7 linked regions of the Homo sapiens genome follow. The gene in region 1 interacts genetically with each later gene. Each region holds a gene or a part of one and is shown in the gene's direction. Other genes may lie near its edges. The genes, in order: MAN1A1, SEC31A, TRAPPC12, PTEN, RAB1A, VPS51 and EZH2.

Region 1 (4,531 bases):
TTTTGATGCTGTTCAGGTAACCCAATATTTAAATCATCTTTGCCACTCAGCCCTAACTTATAATTTGTATATTAATCAAGTTTTAATGAATAAGTGGTATACTACATGAGTGAGTTACAAAGTATTTCCAATTAGGTAGAGTTCGATATCTGCTAATATCATCGTAATAATGGTAATCATATTTGATGTTTATTTCTAATAGGGCCGTTAAAGTTTTTGCATGGTTTAAACCTCAGTTAAGAGTCACATATCTGAAAAAGTAGTATTCTTTGATAAATATGAATTCTCTCCTTAGGACCACAATTTAAATTATGCAGGGGGAAATCCTGAATTTGTATTCTGACAATTGCCTAAGTTAAAATTGCCTGAGAAGACAGACAGTCCCAATGGCTACCTCCATGTGAAGTAAACTTGTCCCCAGAGATAAATGGACAGTACTCTAAGGAAATCCACACATAAAAATCTGAACAAACTCATATTTCAGGGAAGATCATTAATAGTATCAAAGATTCTTTACAGTGGAGAAGTAAGAGGCAACAGTTGAGTGTTGAATTGCCTACCATGTGCTAAGCTGTGTGTTAGGTAGCTCCTTTAAATGAAGCGGTGGAGTTGGGTTTTTTTCTCTCTCACAGTACTTGAGATTATTACCCAGTTTTACAGATAAAGTTGCTGTACCTCAGAGAGATTACATGTCGAACCAAAATTAAGATTAAAGTTTGTCTATATCAGCACCTGTTCCTTTTAACTCATCCACTGTGGATTTATTTGTAAGAATTTCCATTCTACACTTAAATCTTCATTTACTAATTTGCAAGCAGTAAGTTAGTAAGGTAAGTTAGAAACTACTTAAAGTCTCTAGGAGGAGGCTAGTATAAAAGTAAACTAAGAAACACCTCCAGTTAAGCCTCAATCAAAACCGAAAATAAAGTTAGAAAGTAAATAAAGTTAGAAAGAAAATTACTTTATCTAAAATATTTGTACTCTTCAGGAACAAAATTTTTTAGTGGAATCAGGTGCTTTTGCGATTAAGTATTTTATGTGGTAATACATATATTCTTTTAATATTATTATCAAGGCTTCTCAAGTAGTGTTGTAAAATAGTGGCTCAGTCCTCAGAAAAATTTTATTTTTCTTGACAGCTTAGAAATTTTTTAATAAAGTGTTAATTCATAGGAAAAAAATGGAAATTTGTAATCCCAAAGATGTAGCCATTATAAAATTGGTCTTTCTAACAAGAGGTCTGGGTTATTTTGACATAGGCGTACTTTTTTATTTAAATATAAATGCAGCTTGCTTTGTTCTGGTTAACTACACTGAGTATGACATTGGTTTCCTTTACAAGTCTTCACTACTTCACATGTAGGAACCAGAAGCGCCTTAGTGAGAACGTTGGCCTACATTTGGCACAGCCTTTATAAAGGCACATGATTAACATCAAAAGCAAACTAGGATATGATCCACATGGCCTCTTTTAGGTTTATTTTTCCTCATTGCTGTGAGGTTTCAGATTTTAACCTGGGGAGTTCTCCATATTTTATAGTTTCCATTCTGTCATCCTCTAATTACCATACTGGCAGACATTTTAATTATTCTAATCTTAAATTGGCCGTCTAAGATCTTGATGTTCAAAAAAAGACAGCTTTAAAATATTATTTGAAATATTTTCTTCCTAATTCCTAAAACCATACCCACACAACTTTTAGTATATTGTATTCAGACAAATCATTGACAGGAAAATCCATTAAGAACAAATGAAGTCAAAGTGTTTCCTGCTTCTCTTAGTAGTAAAAGCTAATTTTCAATCCACTGTATATTTTCAACTTAGAAAGCAAAGCTAGAACAACTAAATTTCTGTTTTGAGAAGTAGCATTGTCTTATACAGCAAAGTTTATTTCTGCTAAGTTGTACTTTAGAAGATTATTGTAACCAAGGGGAGGATGCTGTACACTATTGTTCTGGACAATTGATTACTGAAGATATGGCTACTCTGTTGTAGCTTCAAGTAGATTTTGGGAAGCATTTAATCCCAGAGTGATATGTTTTATTTGATTATTTTAATAACAAAATATTTTGAGCTTTCAACTGGCTATCATGGCCCTATCTGGAGACTACACTAGGAACTCACAATGGCAAATGATACCTGGGCAGAAGACATATCAGACACTTACGATTCTGAAGGCTTCATCAAACCAGTTTTTTAAATCAATTATACAAGGATTAAATCACAAAATATATAGTACTCTTTTTTCTAATCAATTATCTGTATCCTTGACACAGTTTTTTCAGATCTACTAAAGACTATCCTTCTTTGTATTTATTTATATTTCCCATGGCCACACAAAATTATTGCTTTGAAGGTCTTGGAATTTCATTGTAGTTTTTATTAGGAGGTAGCAACTTGGTCCGAATCATGCCAGAAATACTTTATTTAGGATCCATAACAGGGTAATAATGTTTCTCTAATTCATCCTCAAAAGCTACTACTCTTGCCATGTAGAAAGAATAATTTCTTAGGTGATGAACAAGTATCTGCTTGAAGGACTTTATTGCAATTTGTGTTATGAGAAGTATAAATAGCTAAGATGTTCAGTCGCATAAAATAAGAATGAAATATTAATGTAATAACTAAACCATCAATAACATTAGCTTAACCACGGTTAATGAGCACAGTAATATGTTCATTTATTTCTTACCATCTTGGTTTCATTCGTTTATTTCTAATAAAGGTAGGAAAGGTTTTAGCTTCCTGTGTGTTCATTTTCATTCATTCTTCTCTATCACAAGTTTTTTTCTGTGTCTATTATTCCCAAATGTGCTTCCTAACAAATCCCTCTCTCTTGATAGCAGTGTACAGGTATAGACACAGTCATGTCCTTTTTCCTTCCATGAAGTAATTGTGGGGCAGTGGGGAGAACATTTTCTGTTAGAGTAATTGGAGATTAGCAATGCCAAACACACTTTATTTTTGCTTTTTAAAATATAAGGCATATTTTACTTACCTGTCTAGTTTAAGAGAATATCAACAGACCTGGGATAGAAATAAAAGATGTTTTATAAATCATTTTTGTAAACATTATCATTTCTCCCAAATTTAAAGATTTTTCTGATTTTTAAAATATATACATTTATTCATTATATAATAGTGTGCTTTTTAATAGAAGTATTAGAGAGGAACTTGATTCAAGCGTCACCACTTTGGAGATGTAAATGATAATTATAAATGACTCTTATCAAGTGCCACTTGCATTAGTGACTGCTTTATAAACAAAATGTGGCAGAGTCGTATCAGGAGATCCTGTTGTTCCCATTTATGGATTAGGATGCTGAGATTTAGAGATATAGTAAGCAAATTGTTCACTCCCACAAATTAGAGATAGTGTCAGAGCTGGAATTTGAAGCCAAGTCTTCTGGCCCCAGAACACCTCCTCTTTGCCACTCTATTTTGTTATCCCTCCAAGCCTACAGAAGTGAAAGGAAGAGTTCTGCCACCATCCTGGATCTCATGCACAAATATGCTGTGTTCTTCATCCACCTTAGGGCCTGGGCTGTGTTATTTCACCACTTATGGAAATGAAAATGTACCAAACCAACTATTACTGCTGCACAGTGGCCTGTCTTTGGGAAGGAGAAAGTTTTTTGAATATGAGGAATACAATGTTTGGTCACAGAACCAAGCAAAACCAAATGTGCTGGCGCAGCAGTGTTAATTCTGACTAATCAAACAAATAAGGCATAAACTAGAGGAGGAATACAGAAAGCAATAGCATGTAATTTCAGGTTGAATGGATTTTTAACACCAAACTCTGATTGTCAGGTGTATTCTATTCTTTTTTTTTTAATGTTGGGCATATTTTTAGTATAAATTTGAGAAGAGATTACAAAATGTTAAAAAATAAGTGTTTTTCACAGGCTATCGAGACTCATTTGATCCGCAAGTCTAGCAGCGGACTAACTTATATCGCAGAGTGGAAAGGGGGCCTCCTGGAGCACAAGATGGGCCACCTGACCTGCTTCGCGGGGGGCATGTTCGCACTCGGGGCTGATGCAGCTCCCGAAGGCATGGCCCAACACTACCTTGAACTCGGGGCTGAAATTGCCCGTACTTGTCATGAATCATATAATCGAACATGTGAGTACATGTTATTCTTCATTTATGGTCTATTCCCACATGCTTTGATTTAATGCAGTTTTGTCATTGCTGCCCTCAAAAGACTATCCGCTCTGCCTATGAAGCTTGATGATCGTGATTAATGTCTCAAAGGAATGTATATTTTATTTTAAAAGGCAATGCTTTTCTTCCTAAAAATATCTACCTTTAGTTTACCAAGAAACAAAAATCCAGGCCATAAAGAGTTAAAGCCAGCCTAATTTACTGACTTCTGCTTTTGCCAATAACATTGGGCAAGGGTCTCTATCTCCCTGCAAAGAGAAACTTAGCATTTTATTAACCATTATTAATCTTCTCCACATCCCCCATGAAACAGATCATGAATCCCACTCCCTTCTTATAAAATAGGAATTTGAAACACAA
Region 2 (4,531 bases), on another chromosome or scaffold:
AGAAAAGCCTCAGTTTTTAAAATGCGTTTATTCAAATCTGATTGAAATTTTAAGCTGCATTCCTGTTAATCAGAATAGGTCATCGTAATGGATCATTCTTGCACTTTAAAAAATCTTAGTATTCTTTTTCCTGGCTAAAGATACTTTCTACAAAAAAATATTCAATTTAACTATACTTGTTGACCACATTAATTCAGGTGTTTTGGTTACAAAGTGGCCATACCATTTTCTGAGTTTTGTTGTTTGTTTTTTGTTGGCCTAGGTGTTATATGAACTTCCCACCAACACACAGTGGTGCTTCGATATTCAGTGGTGTCCCCGAAATCCTGCTGTCTTATCAGCTGCTTCGTTTGATGGGCGTATCAGTGTTTATTCTATCATGGGAGGTAGCACAGATGGTTTAAGACAGAAACAAGTTGACAAGGTAATAGGAAGTGTTAAAGTTTTCTATTATAATGCCTGAAAAAAGTATGTGTTGTGTAATATTTTGAAATGACTTCACTGATTAACAATGCTGGTTAATTGGACAATTGTGATCAAAAATTTTTTTGGATATGACTGGAAAAAAATGAAACTTTGTGTATGGTCGGATGCTTATGTTATTATTATCTTTTTTAGCTTTCATCATCTTTTGGGAATCTTGATCCCTTTGGCACAGGACAGCCCCTTCCTCCGTTACAAATTCCACAGCAGACTGCTCAGCATAGTATAGTGCTGCCTCTGAAGAAGCCGCCCAAGTGGATTCGAAGGCCTGTTGGTGCTTCTTTTTCAGTAGGTGGATTTTGTTTTTATGGTCCATAGGCACAAAGGACTTTTTATACCAAAGTGTTATTATAGAGTCACTCTGATGGAAGCAATCAGGGTTTAAGTTGGGATTTGAGATGTACTTGTGGGTATTTCATCATTCAAAATGGTTTCTCTGAAAAATTGGAACCTACTCTTTTTTTTCCCTTTTTTAAAAATCATGGTAAAATATACATAAAATTGATCATTTTGTTCATTTTTAAATATACAGTTCAATGGCATTAAGTACATTTACATTGTTGTTGTGTAGCCAACACTTTATATTCCTCCCCTCCTCCATTTTTTTGTTTGTTTGTTTGTTTTTTTGAGACAGTCTCACTCTGTTGTACAGGCTGGAGTGCAGTGGCACAACCTTGGCTCACTGCAACCTCCGCCTCCTTGGTTCAAGCGATTCTCCTGCCTCAGCCTCCTGGGTAGCTGGGATTACAAGCACGTGCCACCACACCTGGCTGGTTTTTGTATTTTTAGTAGAGATGGGGTTTTACCATGTTGACTGGCCTGGTCTTGAACTCCTGACCTCAGGTGATCCACCCGCTTCGGCCTCCCAAAGTGCTGGGATTACAGGCATGAGTCACTGCACCCGGCCCTCCTCCCTTTTAAATTTGTCTTCCTTCTCTCTCTCTCTGTCTCTCTTTCCCTCCCTCTGTCTCTCTTTCCCTCCCTCCCTCCCTTCTTTTTCTTTTCTTTTCTTCTTTTTTTCTTTTCTTTTTGCAGGGAGTGTCCTCCCTCTTCTTCATCCTTTTAGCTTTCTTTTTTAATTGCCAGCTTTTTTTAATGGTAAAAAATGCATAATATAAAATTTTAATTGTAAAAAATGCATAATATAAAATTTACTATCTTAACCATTTTAAAATATACACTACAACCATTTTTAAATATATACTACAGTAGTGTTAACTATATACACGTTGTTGTGCAACAGATCTCTAGAACTTTCTCATCTTGCAAAACTGAAACTCTGTGCCCTTGAACAACAGCTCCCCATTTCCTGTTTCCCTTGAATCCCTGGTAACCACATTCTACTTTGTTGCTAGGAGTTTTCTACTTTAAATTACTCATATAAATGGAATCATGCAGTACTTGTCTTTTTGTGGCTGGCTTATTTTACTTAGCTTAATGTCCTCAAGGTTTATCTGTGTTGTAGTGTGACAGAATTTACTTCTTTTTAGAGGCCAAATAATATTGCATTGTATATATATATATATATATATATATATATATATATATATATATATATACCACATTTTTTTTTATCCATTCATTTGATGGTCATTTTGGTTGCTTCCACCTTTTGGCTATTGTGAATAAATGCTGTGGTGAACATGGGTTTGTAATTATCATTTTGGGATCCTGCTTTCAGTTTTTTGGGACATATACCCAGAAGTGGGATTGCTGGATCATAGGATGGTTCTATTTTTAAGTTTTTGAAGAACCTCCATACCATTTTATAGCCGTTTTACCATTTTACATTCTCACTAGTGGTGCACAAGGGTTCTAGTTTCTCCACATCCTCTCTAGCACTTTTTGTTTGTTTCTTCCTTTTACATTGCTGATACCTTGCCTAATTCTTTCATGCCAAACTTCTAATAGCTTGATTTCATATTTGTTGCTTGTCTTTTCCCCCTCTAATCTCTACTACATATTCCAAGATTAATCTTCCTAAAATGGACCTTTGAATATGTTTTATGTCACTCGTAAGTCTGTTCTTTGGATCTGCTTAATCTTCTCATCGTCCTATCTGGTCTTCTCTATCTGGGTGGATCACTTGAGGTTAGGAGTTCAAGACCAGCCTGGCCAACATGGTGAAACCCTGTCTACTAAACATACAAAAGTTAGCCAGGCATGGTGGCCGGCACCTGTAATCCCAGCTACTCAGGAGGCTGAGGCAGGAGAATCACGTGAACCCAGGAGGCAGAGGTTGTAGTGAGCCAAGATCCCACCTTTGCACTCCAGCCTGGGTGACTAAGAGCGAAACTCTGTCTCAAAAAAAAAAAAACCAAAAAACCAAAAAAGTACATTTCATCTAGAACAGAAATTGAAGTGGTGTCAGACTGTGGCGCATGAGAGGTTGTATCAACTAATTTCATCCAGATTATCTGTTTAGGCCACTTTATAAGCACTTTTTTTGGCCATATCCTTGGGTTAACACTGAGTTTGTTCATTCTCTCTTTTATAGTTTGGAGGCAAACTGGTTACGTTTGAGAATGTCAGAATGCCTTCTCATCAGGGAGCTGAGCAGCAGCAGCAGCAGCACCATGTGTTCATTAGTCAGGTTGTAACAGAAAAGGAGTTCCTCAGCCGATCAGACCAACTTCAGCAGGCTGTGCAGTCACAAGGATTTATCAATTATTGCCAAAAAAAAATTGATGCTTCTCAGACTGAATTTGAGAAAAATGTGTGGTCCTTTTTGAAGGTAAAGTTGCTGTTTAAAGCTATATTATTTCATTATCTGCAAATTTAACTGTTCCTTTATATTCTAAATCTGTCCTCCTATTAAAGAAACAATTGAAAAAGTGTGATTTCAGCAATTCATCATGAAATTAAGAAGCCTTATAAAGAGCATACAACCTAACTTATGTCCAGAGTTTTTCCTTCTCTGCTTTGAAAAGTGTAATATGAAATACATTTTTAATAAGTAAAAAAAAATAATAATAGGTCTGTTTAGAGGAGAGCGACATAGTCAGCACACCTATTTTGAAGATGAGTACATAGAGTTTACTATAATGAAAACAGAATATTTAACATCTATAGTAGATCTAGTTAAGGAAAATGAAAAAAGAGGAAGAGGAATAGAGGAGAGAGGTTGGAGGCATTTTTCCTTTTACTTTAAGAGGAGTTAGATTAGAATAACAAATAGAATTTCCTGGTTGGTCATTTTGCCTCCACTGGAATGTCTGTTTCTTTATACGGTACTGGTTTTTCAAAGGTAAAGCAGTCTTGAATACAGTTAGGTTAAAGTATAAAATTAAAGAATTTATATTTTGTAATAATTTTGGGAAAGAATTTTAGGACATAGAATATTCCACATAGTTTGAGTTTTGTATCAGTTTAACCTTTGGACATAAGTTTGTATTTACAGAAATTACTGTTCAAAAGTAAGCTTTATTCAACCAGGATAATTAATTACTAGTATATTTACTATTAATAAATAACTTATTTAAAAAAATAATTCTGGGCACATGTTCTCAGGACCTCCTGAGGCTGGGTCTCCAAATAAAAAACAAAAAAACCCACTATTCTTTGGATTCCTTCAAACAGTGAATCTTTAGAATGTAGACTTCAGATATTTTTAATAATTCTCTTTGGAATTTGATTCATTCTTATAAAAATTCGGCCTTTAAATGTAGGTCTTTGTTTTAAGAATATGTCTTTTTTTTTAAAGGTAAACTTTGAGGATGATTCTCGTGGAAAATACCTTGAACTTCTAGGATACAGAAAAGAAGATCTAGGAAAGAAGGTAAACTTTTGGGAAAGTTAGATGGCATGCTCTTTATGAATCATACTTTTAAAAAATAAAGTTCTACACAGATTATCTCAAATCACCCAATAAACATTTAATAATAATTTGTGTTTGGTTGCCAGCGTTTTTTCCCTTTTTCTTTTTCTTATTCTCCATCATTACCCACAGTGGTTGCCAGAGTTTTGAATACATATTGATAAATGACTATGTAACTTGTATTAGCCTTTCATCATTCTTTGGAAATGGCTAGAGTTTTCTATAGCATTG
Region 3 (4,531 bases), on another chromosome or scaffold:
TTTAGAAGAAAGGTATTTTGATGTGTTATTTATGAAATTCAGCATCATAGCTTACACTGCTCATGTACAGGAATTCCTCCATGATAGGTATCTAGCAGTGGAATTGCTAGGTCCTAGGTACTACGACCACATATTTATTGTCTCAACCAAGACTCCTTTAAGAGTGAAAGGAGACACTTAATGATTTTACTGAGGCGAAGCACGTGGCTCACGCCTGTAATCTCAGCACTTTGGGAGGCCAAGGCAGGAGGATCACTTGAGCTCAGAAGTTTGAGACCAGCCTGGCCAACATATTGAGTCCCCATCTCTACAAAAAATACAAAAATAGCTGAGTGTGGTGGTGCACACCTGTAGTCCCAGCTACTCCAGAGGCTGAGGCAGGAGGATGGGCTTGAGCCCAGAAGATCGAGGCTGCAGTAAGCCATCATCGTCCCATTGCACTCCCGCCAGGGTGACAGAGCCAGACTATGTCTCATAAAATAATAATACTAATAAAATAATAGAAATAACTTAAACCATGGGTGAAAAATTGAATTGTTCTGGGAAAAATCAAGATGTATAGTTATCAAAGTGATAAGATAATGTGCTTTTTAAACTTTACTAGATAATACCAAGTGGTTTCTCAACATGGATGTTCAAAGGTATACCTCTTTCAGCTCTGTTGCTTATTTTTCTAATGGATCATTTAGTGTGCTTTTATTAATTTGTAGGGATTCTTTATGTATTCTTCGTGTTAATCCTTTCTCAGTTACATTTGTTTGTTTCACTTTTTTTAGGTTTTTAATGATAGAACTTTCCATTTTAATATAGCAGATGTATCCATTTTCCCTTTATGGTTTGTACTGATTATGCCTAGTTTAAGAGGCTTTGCCTACTCTGAAAATATATTCTCTTATATTTTCTTCTGAAAGTTTTGAAGTTTTGCCTTTCACAGTTAATTTTTGATCCCCCACCCCCGCCCCGCCCGAGACGGAGTCTTTCTCTGTCACCCAGGCTGGAATGTCGTGCCTCAATCTTGGCTCACTACAACCTCTGCCTCCTGGGTTCAAGCGATTCTCCTGCCTCAGCCTCCCGAGTAGCAGAGTAGCTGGGATTACAGGTGCCCGCCACCACACCTGGCTAATTTTTGTATTTTTAGTAGAGACGGGGTTTTACCATGTCGGCCAGGCTCATCTTGAACTCCTGACCTCGTGATACGCCCGCCCCGGCCTCCGAAAGTGCTGGGATTACAGGCGTGAGCCACCGCACCCGGCCTTCACAGTTAAGTTTTTAACGTCCCTGAGATTGATACTGTGTCTGTGGTGAGACAAGATTCCAAGTTTATTTTTTCCCAGCTGCATGATTTGTCTACACATCACTCAAGGAAAATCGTCTCTTCCTTTGATGTGTGCTACATATTCCCTTGTGATAGTTCAGTCTTGTTTTTTTTTTTTTTTTTTTTTTTTTTTTTTTTTTTTTTTTTGAGATGAAGTTTCGCTGCTGTTGCCCAGGCTGGAGCACAGTGGTGCGATCTCGGCTCACTGCAACCTCCGCCTCCTGGGTTCAAGTGATTTTCCTGCCTCAGTATCCCAAGTAGCTGGGATTACAGGCGCCCTCCACCACACCTGGCTAATTTTTGTATATTTAGTAGAGACAGTGTTTCACCATGTTGACCAGGCTGGTCTTGAACTTCTGACCTCAGGTGATCCACCCTCCTCGGCCTCCCAAATTGCTAGGATTACAGGCCTGAACCACCGTGCCTGGCCCAATATTTCAGTCTTTATACCATAGATTTTTGATGTATTCTACATAAATAATCATACACGAAGAATGAAGGTTTGTATTTTTTTCTTTTCAGTTTTTATTGTAGCTTTTAGTTATTTTTCTTGCCTTAATCCTGCCCGAGGACTCCAGTATTAGGCAGCATAAAAATGTTGAAGAGGACATCTTTATCTTTTTTCTACTTTTAAAGAGAATGCTTTAAACGTTTCACTGTTAATTTGAGGTTTCCTTTAGGTTTTTGGTAGATACCTTTGATTGCATTAAGGAAGTTACTTTCTGTTGCTAGTTTGCTGACAGGTTTTATCTTGAGCAGATGCTGAATTTTATTAGATACTTTCTTGTGCATCTATTGAGATAGTCATGTACTTTTATTTAATCTATCGCATTAAACCAACAGTACATTTCTGGGATTACCTGAGTTTGGTAGAAAATAAATACATTGCTGATTCAGTTAGCTAATATTTCAAGATTTTTGCATGTGTGTTCATGAGTGAGATGATAGCTTCCCTTTTAGTATGGCCTTGTCAAATTTTGGTCTCAAGGTTATATTAGCCTTATAAAGTGAATTGGGTCATGTGTCTTTTTTCTTCTCTGCAAGAATTTTTGTACTGTAGGAATTATCTGTACGGAATCTTTGGTAGAATTCACTGGTAAACCCTCTGGACCCTATATTTTCTTTGTAGGAAGACTTAACTACTGGTTATACTTTTTTTATGGTTATAGAACTATCTCGTCATATATACATGGTTATTACTAGTGTCTGCTTTGCATTTGAACCTTACATTGGAATAAGATTAGAGTAAGGAAACCCTTGAAGTGAAGAAGCTATTTTGCTACAAATTATATGTCCATTCTCACAAAATCTTATGTATATAATTTATATAGATGTAGCTTTATAATATATGTATGTCTTCCCATTCATAAAAGCATCATCTAAATCACGTTTTATATCATTTTTATTTGAGCATTCCTCTTGATTTTCTAGAGAAGAAACCCTCAGATCCTTACTTACAAGCATTTTCCTGCATCTAGATTTTATTTGTGTGAAAGCAAAAGTGATCATCCTTGCCCTAAATTATTAGGGCTTTTTATTACTTTGGTATTTACTTAAGAATAAAATTTATTTTTTTATTTTCTTCTCTTCTCAAAAGTGGTTTGCAGGTATTAATGAAAATTTTGGACATTCCCATTTTATCAGTTCTCCTTAATTTACAATTTATAAAGTTTTTAAGCTTTATAATTTAGAAGCATTTTACCTTAATTTTTATTATTTTGGTGGTTTTTCTAGGCGATGTTTTTTGTTATTATATCTCTGATAAACAGATTTCCCTAAATCTTACAGGTTTAAAGCAGCTTCATCTTCACAATAGTAAGAATTGTTTCTTTAAAAAGTTTCTTCACAAAGGCAATAAAACTTTTAAAATCTGTGAGATTGAATCAGAATTAGCTTTAGAACCTAGAATTTTGTTAGGGCTGAGGGTAGATGAGACGGAGGGAAGATCCCTTTCTCTCATCATTAGCTTATATCGAAATCAATTCTTATTTCTAAAATAAAATACGCAGACCACGCTAGTGCCTTCAAGTCCTGCTGGGAGACTTCAGAGGGGGCACTGCCTCATGCTGCCTGTTTGCTCCTTGTGCCCGGCCTCTATCCCTGCACAGGAAGGACCCGAAGGAGCAGCCTTACCATGCACAGGGGGCTCCCCCTTTGGGGTTCTAGGGCAATTTGTTCTTCGGGCTCCCGGTGAAACATGGCAGGAAAAAAAACGTTTTACTCCTTTTCATTGGATTTTTTATTCATTTATACTTAACAATTATTGGATGAATGTATAAGGGAATTAGTAGCTGACCAGGCTGAACCGGAAACTTCTTCAAAATGTATAACTTGGATTATGTACTTTAAAATAATGTTTTGGGAAGGCTGACTCATTGGGAATACTATGATGGAAGTGTTGACAGTGAGAAAAGGGTAGTCTTATCTAGAGATCAGCTAAGTGTCATTTTTTAAGTAAAAAAGGTACGTGTTGTTTTATTCTGAAAAAAATCCCTTATCTTTTATCATAGTCTCTTAGATTTCCTTAACTTGAATTTGTTCACTATGAGAGTAAAACTACATAAAGTAAAAGTTTTTCAAGAAAAAGAACAAATACTTTTTTACAGTTTGAGCTCTTTGTCTCATTCTTTGGCTGGTCCTGGTTTCCCCACTCACTAGCGGTGTGATTTCGGCTTACATAGCCTCCCAAGGCCTCAGTGTCCTCATCTGCGAAACGAAGACAGTGATAGCAGCTGTCTCGAGGGGTGTTCTGAGAATCACACAGGCATATGTATATATAGCCAGGGGCATAGTATGTGCGGATAAATGTTAGCTAGTTGTGTTGTCAGCTTCAGCCATCAGTGCTTAGTGAGTGTGCTGTTTTCTTACTGTTTAAATTTTTCATGTCATTCGCACTGTATCAGATTTCCAGAGTCAGGCAGATAATATGAGCTGGGGCGTGGGGCGGGGGTAGGGGCGGACGGCATGGGGAAGTCAAGAGACTATTACAAATTGAAGAGTCTTGGGAGGGCTTCATGGAAGAGGAGGGACTTAGCTGACTCTCAGAATGAAGTAGTGTTTATATGGCTGGAACCTCACACCTACTGGAATGGCTACTATGAAATAAAAACAAAATAACAAGTGTTGGCAAGGATGTGAATTCCAAGGCTTGTGCACTGTTGGTGGGAATGACAAACGGTTCAGCCACTATGAAAAACAGTTTTTTGGTGCCTCAAA
Region 4 (4,531 bases), on another chromosome or scaffold:
TCACTGTAAAGCTGGAAAGGGACGAACTGGTGTAATGATATGTGCATATTTATTACATCGGGGCAAATTTTTAAAGGCACAAGAGGCCCTAGATTTCTATGGGGAAGTAAGGACCAGAGACAAAAAGGTAAGTTATTTTTTGATGTTTTTCCTTTCCTCTTCCTGGATCTGAGAATTTATTGGAAAACAGATTTTGGGTTTCTTTTTTTCCTTCAGTTTTATTGAGGTGTAATTGACAAGTAAAAATTATATATAAATACAATGTATAATATGATGTTTTGATGTATGTGTATATACATTGTGAAATGATTACTACAGTCAAACTACTTAACATATTCATCACCTCACATAATTATTATTCTCCCCCCAGGGTGAAAGCATTTAAGATCTACAAGCTACAATTTTCAATTATACAATGTTATTATTAACTATAGTCACTATGCTGTCCAGTAGAGCTTCAGATCTTGTTCATCTTGTGTTCCTCCCTCCCCACCCTCAGTCCCTGGAAAACAGGTTTTAAAGATAGTTGCTAATCCTTATTTCTTCTAAATTTTTAAATCAGTTGCTGCCTCAATTTCTATATGAGAAATGACTGATTGATTTCATTTTTCTGTTCACGCTACCATTTTCATATCATACTAGCACATGTTACCCATTAACTGTATTGCAGATTTGGTCTCACAAAATTCTTCTAAAATAACATTTTTAAAAAGCATATTAATCAAAAATAAGCTTTATATTTCTGAAGCTTGTTTGAGCATAGAATGCCTTTGGATAAAATACCATTACCTAGTAAAGTGTGAACTTTTATAATCCATAAAAATTATTCTTTTATAAGAATATTCATAAATGTAGTTAGATTAATAGAAGATTCTCGATTCTTTGATCAGAAAACTAAGGACTATATTGAAAAATCAGTGACAAATTTAATTCTTATAGTACATCTGAAAGAAAAAAGAAAACTCTTGGGAGAACTTTTACAGTGATTTAATTTTGCTGTTGATATATTTCTTTGGGTGGTAAGTATGGCAAAACATGTTAAAATTTAATGCAAAGAGATTTTGTACATTTTTCCATCTCTAAGAAGGACAAAGCCTAAGCCCCTCCAGATAGATAGAAAAACTCATTTAGAGAGTTCTCCTTCATGTTAATCTAATTTCTTCTTAATTCAGCTGTAAAACAGAAATAGAATGATCGTATTAATCATTTAAAGCTGTGTAATTGCATAGATTCCTTGTTCCTTTACCCCCTCTTATATCTTGTTTCCTATCCTTTGTGACTTTTTTTGCATTATATATAAGGATGCCGAAATACTGTTTATTGTTGATAGTTTACAAAATTGAATCTTACATTAGTGCATAATTTTGGTGAATGTTGAAGATTATGGTAGATTGCCTTACATTTCTGCATATTGTTTGCACCTTGGAATGATAGCACTGGCATGAATTATAGAGCTGAGGATCTAAAGATTTTTACTTTGATTTATCCCATTATCATCTGCAGGGAAACAATTGCTTTTACTGATTAAAAATGCAGGCTGGGCACAGCGGCTCACGCCTGTAATCCCAGTACTTTGGGAGGCCGAGGCGGGCGGATCACAAGGTCAAGAGATCGAGACCATCCTGGCCAACCAACATGGTGAAACCTCATCTCTACTAAAAATACAAAAATTAGCTGGGTGTGGTGGCGCGTGCCTGTAATCCCAGCTACTCAGGATGCTGAGGCAGGAGAATCGCTTGAACCCGGGAGGTGGAGGTTGCAGTGAGCCGAGACTGTGCCACTGCACTCCAGCCTGGTGATAGAGGGAGACTCCATCTCAAAAAAAAAAAAAAATGCAGTAGCAAAAGCGATGGTAGAAATTTAAAACAGAGTTGATGAGCAGCATATATTTTGGTAGTGGAAAAAAAGGTAAAAAATTTTTTGTAATAAAATAGAAAAATTTTGTAATGTGGAGGCGCAGAACACTAGATTTAAGCCAGGGGGTCTTAAATTGTGTTACATTCCTTTTAAAGTCTGATGGAAGGTATAAATGTTCTCCCCTCAAAAAATGTGCATAGTGTACATAAAATTTTGCAGTTTTTATTACATTGAAATATATTCTTTTAGACAGAATGTAAAAGAACCTTCATGAAAACTATGTCACTTTTTTATGCAAAAACCAGTGGCTACTACATGAGAGCAATGAATAAATCTAAGTGGTACAAATTAACCAAAATTAAGCTTTAGTTCTGTTCAATACTAAATTTTAATGAAAAGACTGCTATTTAACTTTTAAAATAACAAGTTGAAACTATGCTCTTTGACTTTGACTTTGCAACTTTTATATGATCTTTGATATCCAATCAGTGTTGACTTTGGTAAAAAGTGCTGAAAATGCTATTTTACAAAAGAAAGAAGAGTAAATGGAATCTGTAGATTCTATTGCCTGATGAAAGTAGACGTGTCAAGAAATAAGAATTCTCCAAGGCTCTTCAGATAAATTCATGTTTCATCATTTTCTTTGCCTTCAAGTTACTGAGATCATTTTTGGCAAGATCTGTATCATTAATGCTGTGTTAGGAAAGAAAAGATTATGACTCCACATTTTACTTTCAAGGTTGAAGAGTTAAACTGTTTAAAAAGAGTGTATGTTATCCTGTAAACAGCAGTATCAGGCTGTAGAATTTGTCTTCTGAAAGCAGGGAACTTATATATAGCAAAGAACTTCATAGTGCTCCCATTTCTTGACAAAACCTCTCGAGAAGCTCTTGATTGAAAGTCTTGGCTTTCATGAATCTGGCAGCTTTCACAATAGTGGATTTTTCATGACAAATCATCTTACACAGGGAATTATTCAAGGGTTGGCACTTGAAACAGTAGAATACTTTCACAACAAGAGATAAGATTTCTTTCAGGATTGATGACAGTCTTGCACCCTAGCGCATACTGATGAAGAGAGCAGTGGGTGACCATGACATGGAGAGCTTCTGTCTTTACCAGTGCCCCAATATCAGATGTGTTGTCTGGCAGTAAGGTGTACTGTCTGCCTACAGAATACTGAGGTTTCTTCAGGAGAAGTTTTTTGGTAAAGAAACTTTACCATTTTGAAAGTGTTAATGTTTTCTGAAGCTTCCAAAAAGATTCCAAAATGGGAATGTTTCCTTGATTGTGTCACCATGCTTGCATTTGATGAAAACTTGTAGCCGGCTATACTGAGAAATCATATCTGAAGAAAGGTGGTACTTCCAATCTTTTTGTGACCTACTTTATTATTGTTTTTTTAATGTCAGGGTTTTTTTTGGAATGGAGAAAAGTATTTGATAGAGGTATTGCAACAGTCTTATTCTTCTTCATGCTACAAGTATATTTGACTCTTTCTAAGATACTTGCCTTCACTGTTCAACTGTGTGACTTTTTGTTTGTTTAGCATTACAATCAATATCCTAGTAGGATGATTTAATCAATGATTTTTAATTGGAACAAATAGTTTTTGTAATGGTCTAGGCTTTTCCAACTTAACTGTGCTCTCACATGTGGTCTCTTTTTCTCCCTCTTTCCTCCTTCTTATACACTCTCACCCACACACATATGCATACATACCCTGTCTGATGTATCTGCTTCTTCAGAATAGTTGGCTGTGCTCTGCTGATGATGAGAACTTGCCATTTAAGAAGGACTTGGGATAGTCCATGTCATCATGTTCAGGGATAAAAGTAAAACCCAAGGGCATTTAAACTTTATTGTATTTTATTTTCTGTTTCCAGTCCAAATTAAATCCAAGAGAAGGCTCCATAATCAAAAAGTAAGGACATATTTTAAATTTGCCAATGGGAAGATATTCTAGTCATTACAGTCTGGTAATACTATCAATTCTGTTTCTCTTCAGAGGTGAGGGGAGACTATTTGATGAAATCGTAAGTCCTGTAGGGTGTTGTGAAATAGGGCCAGAATGAAAGATAGCAAGAATAGTGTTATGAAAATAAAATGCAAAGTTTATAATATCATGTGGTAAAATGTAATAGTATTTACTTCATCAGTAGAACTGCTCTAGTAGCTGTATATTCTCCATCCTTGCATAGGTTGGAATATCCCCCAAGTGAAAAGAGATTGATGGGCTAATAGTTAATAGAAAATGGAGATCTGTACATACAGTGTTAAGAATGTAGATATTAAAATTGTTATATTTAGCTGTTACATAATATTAAGACTCAGAGTTAAGTAATTTCACTGAAATTGATTGCTTTTTGTGTCTTGGAGTCAAAATAAATAACTGAAATCTACTATACTTGGCTCATGCTTAATTAATATACTTAGACCATATTTCGGATGAATTATTCACAGAATCTAAAGGAGTATCCTCGTGTTCTTACCTTCTTTATCCCTGTGTTTATTTAAAAAGGCAAAAAAAATGGAGCAGATGCTGTTGGTTGACCATATTTTACTGAACAGTAGCATTTGTGTTTAGGTTGAAACAGCATTAGAAAACTAGATACGGATTAAAGTCAGTGGTAGGTTTTTTTTTTTTTTTCTTCCAGGAATGTTTCTTATAGAT
Region 5 (3,907 bases), on another chromosome or scaffold:
ACTGGGTGATTTATTAAAAAAAAGGTTTAATTGACTCATAGTTCTGCATGGCTGAGGAGGCCTCAGGAAACTTACTGTGGCAGAAAGGGAAGCAGGCACGTCTTACATGGCAGGAGGCGAGAGAGTGTGAAGGAAGTGAAGGGGGAAGAGCCCCTTATGAGACCATCAGATCTTGTGAGAATTCATTCACTATCACTTGAATGGGGGAAACCGTCGTCATAATCCAATCACTTCTCCATAATCCAATCACTTCCCTCAGTGATTACAACTTGAGATGAGATTTGGGTGGGGACACAGAGCCAAACCATATCAGTGCCTGTAGTCCCAGTTACTTGGAGGCTGAGGCAGGAGGAACACTTGAGCCCAGGAGTTCAAGATCTGCCTGGGCAACATAGCAATACCTCCATTTTGGATAAAAAGGAAATTTTACTTTTTGGGTGCCATTGCTTACTTTAATCAGCTGTAACTTCTTGTTGACTTTTAGTCAAAAAACAATTTTTCCTTCTATCTTTGTGAAAGAGGTTGGTGAGCAAGGAAGAAAAGGAAACTTGCTTTATTGAGCAGCTTCTATAGTCAGGCACATTTTACAAACATTAGTTCATTTAAACCCCTTTAGCTGTTGTACAAGGTGAATGCTATCTAGCATTTACAGATGAAGAAACTGTTAGGTGACTCTCCCTAATATTAAATAACCAGGAACCTGGATTTGATGTTTTGAAGTCAGGGTAGCTTGATCCTCGAGTTCATGCTTCCTCCAAGGATACACTGAAAGACTTTGAGCCTCTTTTTTTTTTTTTCTCTTTTTTTGAGACAGGATCTGGCTCTCTTGCCCAGAGTGCAGTGGTGTGATCTCAGCTCACTGCAACCTCTGCCTCCTGGGCTCAAGCGATTCTGCCTCAGCCTCTCGAGTAGCTGGGACCACAGGCGCACGCCAGCATACTTGGCTAATTTTTGGATTTTTAGTAGAGACAGGGTTTCACCATGTTGGTCAGGCTGGTCTCGAACTCCTGAGCTCGTAATCCGCCCGTCTCGGCCCCACAAAGTGCTGGGATTACAGGCGTGAGCCACCGTACCCAGTCCCAACAGTTTTTTAAAACCCAGAACTATAATGCAATAATGTTAGCATTTGTTTTGGGAGTTTGAGCCTAAATGGTTGAAGTGCAGTAAATTGTTCTTAAAATACGTTTTATGAAAGTATTTGGAGTCATCTTCCTTACATTTTTTTCTCTAGGATGAAGACAACACCTAGCCAGGCATGGTGGCTCATGCCAGTAATGCCAGCACTTTGGGAGAATGAGTTAGGATAATTGCTTGAGTCCAGGAATTTGAGACCAGCCTGGGCAATGTAGCGAGACTCTGTCTCTACAAAAAAGAAAAAATTAGCCGGGTGTGGTGGCATGTGCCTGTAGTCCCAGCTACTCAGGAGGCTCAGGTGGAAGGATTGCTTGAGGTGGGAGGTTGAGGCTGCAGCGAGCCATGATCATGCCACTGTACTCAGCCTGGATGACAGAATGAGACGCTGCTTGAGAGGGGAAAAAAAAGACACCTGCTTGGGATGATTAAAGTTCTGTCTTGACTGGTAGTTATTTGAATTAGGTCCCTCCAGTGCTTTTAATCATGGTAGAATGTGCTAGCAAGTGAGTTTGTCTTACATGGAAGAGTTCTGTGTTCAAGGGCTTTCGGCCAGTGGCATTCCTAAACACAGTGTTAAAGGCGGTAGGGAATGTGAAAAGTATGACATAGTTCCTGCTCTCAACAGCTTGTAATTTTAGTATTATTATCGTAAGCTCAATTGTAGGTACTACTTCTTTTCTGGACTTTCAGGTGCTTATTACCGTGCAATTTAGTGGTATGAGTTGAGGACTAATGTTTCTATATCACATCCTGATAATCTCCACAGTTATGAAAACTAAACTATTTCCCCTCCCTCCTACACTTTTCCCCAACTTTATTTTAATGGAATTGTTTGGATTTCTTGATTGTTTTGTAATAGTGGGACACAGCAGGCCAGGAAAGATTTCGAACAATCACCTCCAGTTATTACAGAGGAGCCCATGGCATCATAGTTGTGTATGATGTGACAGATCAGGTAAGTTCCAAGAGGAGATTGTGTTACAGTGACCAAGTAGGAAGCCATTATTTGATTAATGTCAGATTCATTTACTACTTCATATATAAGCCATCAGTATTAATTTTATGGCAGAAAACTTTGTCCACTCTCAAATATAAATGTGAATCACTTAAAAGACATTTGTTTTCCTGTAATAAATAAAAGATTAGTAATTAGTTTTACGTTTGCTTTCAAGGGATTCTGGTTGTATTTATTGTCAACTAAATAACTTTGATCAAATAGCCAAGACTCTAACATATAGGCAAGAGTTTGTAGGGAATCGTGAGTTGCTTGGCTTATACTGTGTTCTTGGTGTTAAGTATTAACAGGAATATGGCCTGGTAATTAGAACTTGTCCATCAGAATTGCCAAAAGTGGGATTCGGGGGTCTCTGCCTATGGAGGATGTGGTTCAGAAATAAAGAATTTGAATAGGATAAGCTGTAGGAGGATCTTAGTATGAGAATGAGTATCTGAAGATTAGCTGTGAGAGAGGGCAGAGCGATGGAGGGAACAATGTGGGACAGTGTGAAGCATGTGATCCAGGGGCCATAACTTTTTTTGTTACTATTTTTTTAAATCAGAAACTTAGATTTCAGTGTCCTTTCTATCAAAGAAAAGGACAAAAGATAAACGTTCAAAATTGGAATTTATTTTTCTTTTGGCAAATGTTAAATCTCACCTCTAATGAGAAATCATAGCTAATTAGGAGATAACTTACATGTAAGCATTTAGATTCAGTGCCATTAGAAGTGCTGGGTGGGTGATATCTGCAGGAGAAAAAAATGATGCTAGTTTAAAAAATCTCTACTATTACCGTGAAATATTTTTAAATGAAAACTTTCGTCCTCTAAATATGACTGTGGAAAAGAAAATGAGTATATTTAATAACATCTTTTGACATCTCTAGTAGTAACAGTAGGTCATCTTATTCATAAACCAAAATTTTACCAAATTTCAGGCCAGGCGCAGTGGCTCACGCCTGTAATCCCAGAACTTTGGGAGGCCGAGGCGGGCGGATCACCTGAGGTCAGGAGTTAGAGACTAGCCTCGCCAACATGGCAAAATCCCATCTCTAGTAAAAATACAAAAATTAGCCAGGCGTGGGGGCCCGTGCCTGTAATCCTAGCCACTTGGGAGGCTGAGACAGGAGAATCGCTTGAACCCAGCGGGCAGAGGTTGCAGTGAGCCGAGATCGCGCCATTGCACTCCAGCCTGGATGACAGAACAAGACTTTGTCTCAAAAAAAAAAAAAAAAAATTAATCAAATTTCAAAACCAGGTTTTGTAGTACATTTAAATTGCATATTCCAAAGCAGTTGGGTTTGCCTGCGTTGCAGTTTAATATTAAGCTATACTTCCCTTTCAAATAAGGTATTTTCATCGTTAAGCCTGTAAATTCTAGTTTGTCATTGTTTAGATATTTATAGTCATTTTAATATATCTGTTTACGGCCAGCTGCAATGGCTAACACCTGTAAACTCAGCACTTTTTGAGGCCAAGGTGGGCCGATTGAGCTCAGGAGTTCGAGACCAGCCTGGGCAACATAGTGAAACTCCATCTATACAAAAAATCCAAAAAAAAAAAGACAGGTGTGGTGGCATGTGCCTGTAGTCCCAGCTATCCCGGAGGCGGAGGCGGGAGGATGGCTTGAGCTTGGGAGGTCGAGGGTGCAGTGAGCTGTGATTGTGCCACTGCACTCCGGCCTAGGTGACAGAGCAAGACCCTGTCTCAAAAAAAAAAATCTCTTCACTCCTTAGCAGTGGTTATTTTGTAGCTAGAGTTGTCTCACTAGCTCT
Region 6 (4,105 bases), on another chromosome or scaffold:
TGAGGTCAGAGACCAGTCTGGCCAACATGGTGAAACCCTCTCTACTAAAAGTACAAAAATTAGCCAGGCATGGTGGCACGTGCCTGTAATCCCAGCTACTCGGGGCTGAGGCAGGAGAATCGCTTGAACCCAGGAGGTGGAGGTTGCAGTGAGCTGAGATCGCGCCACTGCACTGCAGCCTGGGCGACGGAGGGAGACCCTGTCTCAAAAAAAAAAAAAGAATGAGGTTTTTTTCTTTGTGATCTACCATATGGAAAGGTTTGTATATATTTTATGGCATTGTTTGGGAAAAATGCAAACTGTGTGCTTCCTATGCTCTCACATCACCACAATCATGACCACAGAAGAGTTCTGTGACCAAATGTGTTGGGTTTCTTCCCCACACACCAAGCAGCAGACACCCGCTGGGTGTCCTCTGATTTAATTCCAACACTATTTACCCAGAGATAGCATCAGATTCCATGAGTTGAGGGCTGAGTCCCCAAGCCTGCCTCCCTTCAGGCACTAGTTCAGTCCCAAATCTGCCTCCCCACTTTCAGGCACTAGCTGCAGGTCAGGGCCTCAGGCCTCCAGAATTTCTGACCAACTGGCTCCAGGTAGGGGTTTCCATAACTCCCTCTTTGGGCTCAGTTTGCTGGAGTGGCTCACAGAGCTCAGGATAACACATTTACCAGTTTATTACAAAGGATGTTACAAAGGGTACAGATGAGCAGGTGCATAGGGCGAGGTGTAGGAGAAGGAGCATGGAGTTTCCATGCCCTCCCCGGGCGTGCCACCCTCCAGGAGCCTCCAGAGCTGAGATCGCGCCACTGCACTCCAGCCTGGGTGACAGAGTGAGACTCTTTCTCAAACAAAACAAAACCAAAATATCTCCTGTTACAGATACACATTTCTGTCTTATCCTCTTCGCCTTTCTTTATGAACATTGTTGGTATGTTCAATGGAATTAGGGAAATTAGTTGGGAAATGTTGGCAGTTGTTGGACAAGAGATGATAGTGGCTTACAAAGAAAATGTTGCAGGTAGACCTTCCATGACTTGGTAATGGATTGATTACTAGGTATATTAATCCAGGTTCATACTGCTGTAAAGAACTGCCCGAGACTAGGTAACTTATAAAGGAAAGAGGTTTAATTGACTCACAGTTCACAGCATGGCTGGGGAGGCCTCAGGAAACTTACAATCATGGCAGAAGGTGAAAGAGAAGCAAGGCATCTTCTTCACAAGGCAGCAGGAAGGAGAAGTGTTAAGCGAAGCAGGGAGAGCCCCTTATAAAACCATCAGACCTCGTCGGGTGCGGTGGCTCATGCCTGTAATCCCAGCACTTTGGGAGGCCAAGGTGGGCGGATCATGAGGTCAGGAGATCAAGACCATCCTGGCTAACATGGTGAAACTCCATCTCTACTAAAAATACAAAAAATTAGCTGGGTGTGGTGGCAGGCACCTGTAGTCCCAGCTACTTGGGAGGCTGAGGCAGGAGAATGGTGTGAACCTGGGAATTGGAGTTTGCAGTGAGCAGAGGTCGTGCCACTGCACTCCAGTCTGGGCGACAGAGCGAGACTCAGTCTCAAAAAAAAAAAAAAAGAATAGGTGGAATTGAATTGAGGCCGTCAGTGAACAGTCAGGAACATTGGAAGGCTCATCCATGTGGATGTGCACAAGGAGGTGACAGGAGGAGGAGAAGAGGCAGTGATGGGGAACTGAGAGGAGTGTCAGAGGACAGTAGAGACAGCAAAGAGGAGGGTTGTGGCTTGATGGCATGGTCTTCCTAGAAGCCGGGGTTTTGAAGAGAGGAGATCTAGGCATGATTTAGAAGCATGAAGGGACCAGGCTCCCAGGCACCTGGTGTGTGAAAGGAAAAACAGCCTCCCTAGGCAGGATTCTATCAGGACCAAAGGGAAAGGGCCCTTCAGAGAAGACAGCCCATGTTCCGGAAAGCATGTGAAAGGCTTTGGGAGGTCTGGAAAGGAGATGAGGGTCAACAAGAATGTATTGCCTCATCCAGGCAGTGCGCTGGACACGCAGATGCGCTTGGGAGCCAGCGGTCCCTGCCTTGGCTGCTTGTGGTCTGATGGAGCAGTTGAGGCACAGTGGTGGCAGCTGGCTAAGCACCTGCGGCCTGCTTCGGATCTGGACTAATTCTGAGGGCCGGCTCTCCTGGGCACCAGGGTTAGGGGGTTACGGGGAGTATGTGAGTAACGCCTGCTTTGGGAACATAAACCCCCTCCCCCGCCCCCATGTGCGCTGTGACCCACGCCCTCGCAGTCCTTTCTCTGGAATCATCCATGCGCCCCTGGAGCAAGCTGGGGCGTCTGTGAAGGGGTGGGTGAGAAGGAGCTGAGGTTGCGCCCGCCCTGCAGTCACCTGCTCTCCCCTTTTCCCCGCCCCTGCCCTCCTAGACACCATCCGGAAGATGAAGAACGATTTCCGGAAGATGGAGGATGAGATGGACCGGCTGGCCACCAACATGGCAGTGATCACCGACTTCAGCGCTCGCATCAGCGCCACGCTGCAGGACCGCCACGAGCGCATCACCAAGCTGGCAGGTGGGCGCTGCCGGGCAGGGCCTGCAGTGGGCCTTTCCTGGGGCTCTGGGGCTAACGTCACCCTCCGTCCCCCAGGGGTCCACGCGCTGCTGCGGAAGCTGCAGTTCCTCTTTGAGCTGCCCTCGCGCCTCACCAAGTGCGTGGAACTGGGCGCCTATGGGCAGGCGGTGCGCTACCAGGGCCGCGCGCAGGCCGTGCTGCAGCAGTACCAACACCTGCCCTCGTTCCGCGCCATCCAGGACGACTGCCAGGTCATCACGGCCCGCCTGGCCCAGCAGCTGCGGCAGCGCTTTAGGTGTGGCCCCTCTGCCCTGACCCCAGCGCTCCCGCCAGCCCCGAGCCCCATCTGTGCCCGGCTCCTGGGCCCTCCTGGAGCTGTCCCCCTGCCCTGTGTGTGCTTTGCTTTCCTGCTCCTGCCCCATCCACCGGCAGCCCCGGCCCTGCCCTTCACTACCTCTCCCTCGTGCAGGGAGGGCGGCTCAGGCGCCCCGGAGCAGGCAGAGTGCGTGGAGCTGCTGCTGGCCCTGGGCGAGCCTGCGGAGGAGCTGTGCGAGGAGTTCCTGGCGCACGCCCGCGGCCGGCTGGAGAAGGAGCTGAGAAACCTGGAGGCCGAGCTGGGGCCCTCACCTCCGGCTCCCGACGTGTTAGAGTTCACCGACCATGGAGGCAGTGGCTTCGTGGGCGGCCTCTGCCAGGTGGCGGCGGCCTACCAGGAGCTGTTTGCGGCCCAGGGCCCAGCAGGTGCCGAGAAGCTGGCGGCCTTCGCCCGGCAGCTGGGCAGCCGCTATTTTGCGCTGGTGGAGCGGCGGCTGGCGCAGGAGCAGGGTGGTGGTGACAACTCACTGCTGGTGCGGGCGCTGGACCGCTTCCACCGGCGCTTGCGGGCTCCCGGGGCCCTGCTGGCCGCTGCCGGGCTCGCAGACGCTGCCACGGAGATCGTGGAACGAGTGGCCCGCGAGCGCCTGGGCCACCACCTGCAGGGTCTCCGGGCGGCCTTCCTGGGCTGCCTGACAGACGTCCGCCAGGCGCTGGCAGCACCTCGCGTGGCTGGGAAGGAGGGCCCTGGCCTGGCCGAGTTGCTGGCCAATGTGGCCAGCTCCATCCTGAGCCACATTAAGGCCTCTCTGGCAGCAGTGCACCTTTTCACCGCCAAAGAGGTGTCCTTCTCCAACAAGCCCTACTTCCGGGTACGCCTCCTCTTGGGTGTTCCTTGTTCAACCTGCTGGTTGACCCTCCAAAACCTTTTATGCCAGTGCTTGGGAAACTGGGGAAACCAGGCACTCTGGGTGTGGTTTCAGGTTCTTATGCACGGTCTGGGGGGTGGGGAAGGCTCAGGGCATCTGCAGCTGGGCTGAGAAGCAGGGCATGGTGGGGTCCCCAGTGTTGGCTTTCTCTGCCCCCACTCAGGGAAGCTGCTCCGGGGTACTTAGAATGTAGGATGATGCTGTCCCTTGCAGAGGGGGCTGGGGCACTTAGAGCCCCAGCAGAGGGTCATTAACAGCCTTACCTGGAAGAGGGGACCTGCTGTGGACCTGGGCACCTTCTCTTGCAGGGTGAGTT
Region 7 (2,205 bases), on another chromosome or scaffold:
CTGTTTTTTGATTACAGGTTGGTAAAGTACATTTCTAGCATGATCTCTAAGGGCTTTTTCTACTGGATTGTGAACTCTGGACAAAGGAGGGTTTTTAGTTCTTTGCTTCTTTTGATGGGTCACTTTGCCATGAGCATTAGTGGGGAATTAGGTTACACTTTCCTGTTATGTATTTATTATCCATTTATATATTATACAAGGCATGCTTATTTTTAAAATAGAGTAAAATCCATGCAGAAAGCCCCATTTCTCACCCTGCTGTTGACAGCTGGGTGAGTCCTAGACCTTCTCATATCATGCCGCATGCTGCATGCTCACTCGTGGAGCGTTTTCCAGATAAGTGCGATCACACTGTCCTATAGATTTTTCTGCAACATGGTTTTACTTGACAATATACTATGCATATCTTTATGGATTAGATCTACTTAATTTATTGTTTGCTATAATACTTATTACACATATCATTACCATTTTAAAAGGGGCTGTTGGCAAATCGCTGTCTGATCACCCTGTGGGGATGCCTGGGACACGTGGGCCACCAATGGTATCTGTGTGGTTAGGCATTAGGCTGCCAGTTGACACTGTCAAGCTCTGTGGGATACATTTAAGTCAGCCATTGAATACAGATTTAAGTGCAGTCAGATGACTGTCTAGTTAATGAACTCCTGTAGCCCCGTGTACATCCCATCCAGAAGCTGTCTTTGAGTACTGTGTTCTTGCATATTCAGGCTGGCCTTTAATGGCTGTTGCACAGCAGCGAGCTCTCAGTGAGGCAGACAGGGTCTGAGTGAAGGGCCCACTTTAGCAAAGGCCGCTGCCTTCACTCCAGGCTGGCTCTGAATGAAGAGTGTGGGGTGGAGCTTCCTTGGGATGACCCGGTGGCCTCACCCCCCATGGTGGGCTTCTTGTGCTCCTCTCTGGGTGTCCGCTGCACTCCAGTTCTTGCTTCACCTGGGGGAGCAACTGGCGGGCTGCTCTTTGGCCCTCTTTGCTATGGTCATCATTTTTTCCAGACCATGGTTCTATTTTGCCTTCCCAGCGTCAGGCCTAAGCATCCTGATGTGGACCAGCCTTCCTGGGACCACTTGCTTCAGAGGCATAGGGGAGGCTGGTCAGGCTCTGGGAATGCTTGTAGACAGGTTTGTTCACTTCAGAACTTGGCAGCGTCTCAATTAGATGGCCAGCAACACAGACCTATGCATTGCCTTCTATGAATGTGCCGTTATGCAGGCAGCTGTGTAATTGGATGGGTTTTTTTTTTTTTTTTTTTTTTAAAGACATTTTAATGCACCCACTATCTTCAGCAGGCTTTGTTGTGTTAAGTCTCAGCACATGTTGGATGGGTGGCCATCCAGCGGACATCTCCTTCCTGTTGTTTCAGATACAGCCAGGCTGATGCCCTGAAGTATGTCGGCATCGAAAGAGAAATGGAAATCCCTTGACATCTGCTACCTCCTCCCCCCTCCTCTGAAACAGCTGCCTTAGCTTCAGGAACCTCGAGTACTGTGGGCAATTTAGAAAAAGAACATGCAGTTTGAAATTCTGAATTTGCAAAGTACTGTAAGAATAATTTATAGTAATGAGTTTAAAAATCAACTTTTTATTGCCTTCTCACCAGCTGCAAAGTGTTTTGTACCAGTGAATTTTTGCAATAATGCAGTATGGTACATTTTTCAACTTTGAATAAAGAATACTTGAACTTGTCCTTGTTGAATCATCTCTCATAACGTGTCAATAACTGCTTTCAGGACTGCTCAACAAAAAACTTTTAAATTTAACTCCTTGGGTTTTTTAGTTGTCTTTGTATGAATCTTGATTTAACTAATACTGCCTGTGAATATGTGGAAGACATATATGAAGAACACTGCTGTGCATCCTGAGGGCTTACCCAGTAAAGGGCTTGATCTTATAGACAAGACCAGGGTGGGTACGTTCCAGTCAGCTGTGCAACCTGGAGAAAGAGATTTAACCTCCAAGTCTGTTCCCCATATATAAACTGACAGAGTAGACTTTTAGGTTATTTTTAAGAACGTACCTAGTTCTAAACTCCATTAGTCTAGATAGAGTTCTTTAGAAACAAACACAATATAAGTTGGGATTCCTTACCTACCTTATCACAAAAGGTGATTGATAGGTATAACCAAACTGTAGTTTTATATCTTCTCAGAGGTAAAAATCACAAACTCTGAAAGCGTCAAGGAAACG

Evidence for each region.
Region 2: changes in MAN1A1 (region 1) and SEC31A together harm fitness more than expected from each alone (negative genetic interaction), as found in Homo sapiens cells (one large-scale study listed by BioGRID).
Region 3: changes in MAN1A1 (region 1) and TRAPPC12 together harm fitness more than expected from each alone (negative genetic interaction), as found in Homo sapiens cells (one large-scale study listed by BioGRID).
Region 4: changes in MAN1A1 (region 1) and PTEN together harm fitness less than expected from each alone (positive genetic interaction), as found in Homo sapiens cells (one large-scale study listed by BioGRID).
Region 5: changes in MAN1A1 (region 1) and RAB1A together harm fitness more than expected from each alone (negative genetic interaction), as found in Homo sapiens cells (one large-scale study listed by BioGRID).
Region 6: changes in MAN1A1 (region 1) and VPS51 together harm fitness less than expected from each alone (positive genetic interaction), as found in Homo sapiens cells (one large-scale study listed by BioGRID).
Region 7: changes in MAN1A1 (region 1) and EZH2 together harm fitness more than expected from each alone (negative genetic interaction), as found in Homo sapiens cells (one large-scale study listed by BioGRID).

Annotation. Positions count from the first base shown.
Region 1 is NC_000006.12:119,189,262-119,193,792, reverse strand, and holds part of MAN1A1 (mannosyl-oligosaccharide 1,2-alpha-mannosidase IA), read left to right. Parts: coding exon 1-16; intron 17-3,909; coding exon 3,910-4,129; intron 4,130-4,531. UniProt on the Homo sapiens protein: Involved in the maturation of Asn-linked oligosaccharides. Progressively trim alpha-1,2-linked mannose residues from Man(9)GlcNAc(2) to produce Man(5)GlcNAc(2).
Region 2 is NC_000004.12:82,863,048-82,867,578, reverse strand, and holds part of SEC31A (protein transport protein Sec31A), read left to right. Parts: intron 1-262; coding exon 263-424; intron 425-618; coding exon 619-771; intron 772-2,980; coding exon 2,981-3,217; intron 3,218-4,186; coding exon 4,187-4,261; intron 4,262-4,531. UniProt on the Homo sapiens protein: Component of the coat protein complex II (COPII) which promotes the formation of transport vesicles from the endoplasmic reticulum (ER).
Region 3 is NC_000002.12:3,382,451-3,386,981, forward strand, and holds part of TRAPPC12 (trafficking protein particle complex subunit 12), read left to right. Parts: intron 1-4,531. UniProt on the Homo sapiens protein: Component of the TRAPP complex, which is involved in endoplasmic reticulum to Golgi apparatus trafficking at a very early stage.
Region 4 is NC_000010.11:87,933,125-87,937,655, forward strand, and holds part of PTEN (phosphatidylinositol 3,4,5-trisphosphate 3-phosphatase and dual-specificity protein phosphatase PTEN), read left to right. Parts: coding exon 1-127; intron 128-4,531. UniProt on the Homo sapiens protein: Dual-specificity protein phosphatase, dephosphorylating tyrosine-, serine- and threonine-phosphorylated proteins.
Region 5 is NC_000002.12:65,089,165-65,093,071, reverse strand, and holds part of RAB1A (ras-related protein Rab-1A), read left to right. Parts: intron 1-1,993; coding exon 1,994-2,089; intron 2,090-3,907. UniProt on the Homo sapiens protein: The small GTPases Rab are key regulators of intracellular membrane trafficking, from the formation of transport vesicles to their fusion with membranes.
Region 6 is NC_000011.10:65,105,183-65,109,287, forward strand, and holds part of VPS51 (vacuolar protein sorting-associated protein 51 homolog), read left to right. Parts: intron 1-2,398; coding exon 2,399-2,545; intron 2,546-2,620; coding exon 2,621-2,840; exon of another isoform or gene 2,841-2,842; intron 2,843-3,014; coding exon 3,015-3,732; intron 3,733-4,097; coding exon 4,098-4,105. UniProt on the Homo sapiens protein: Acts as a component of the GARP complex that is involved in retrograde transport from early and late endosomes to the trans-Golgi network (TGN).
Region 7 is NC_000007.14:148,806,883-148,809,087, reverse strand, and holds the end of EZH2 (histone-lysine N-methyltransferase EZH2), read left to right. Parts: coding exon 1-17; intron 18-1,381; coding exon 1,382-1,442; 3' UTR 1,443-1,705; downstream 1,706-2,205. UniProt on the Homo sapiens protein: Polycomb group (PcG) protein. Catalytic subunit of the PRC2/EED-EZH2 complex, which methylates 'Lys-9' (H3K9me) and 'Lys-27' (H3K27me) of histone H3, leading to transcriptional repression of the affected target gene.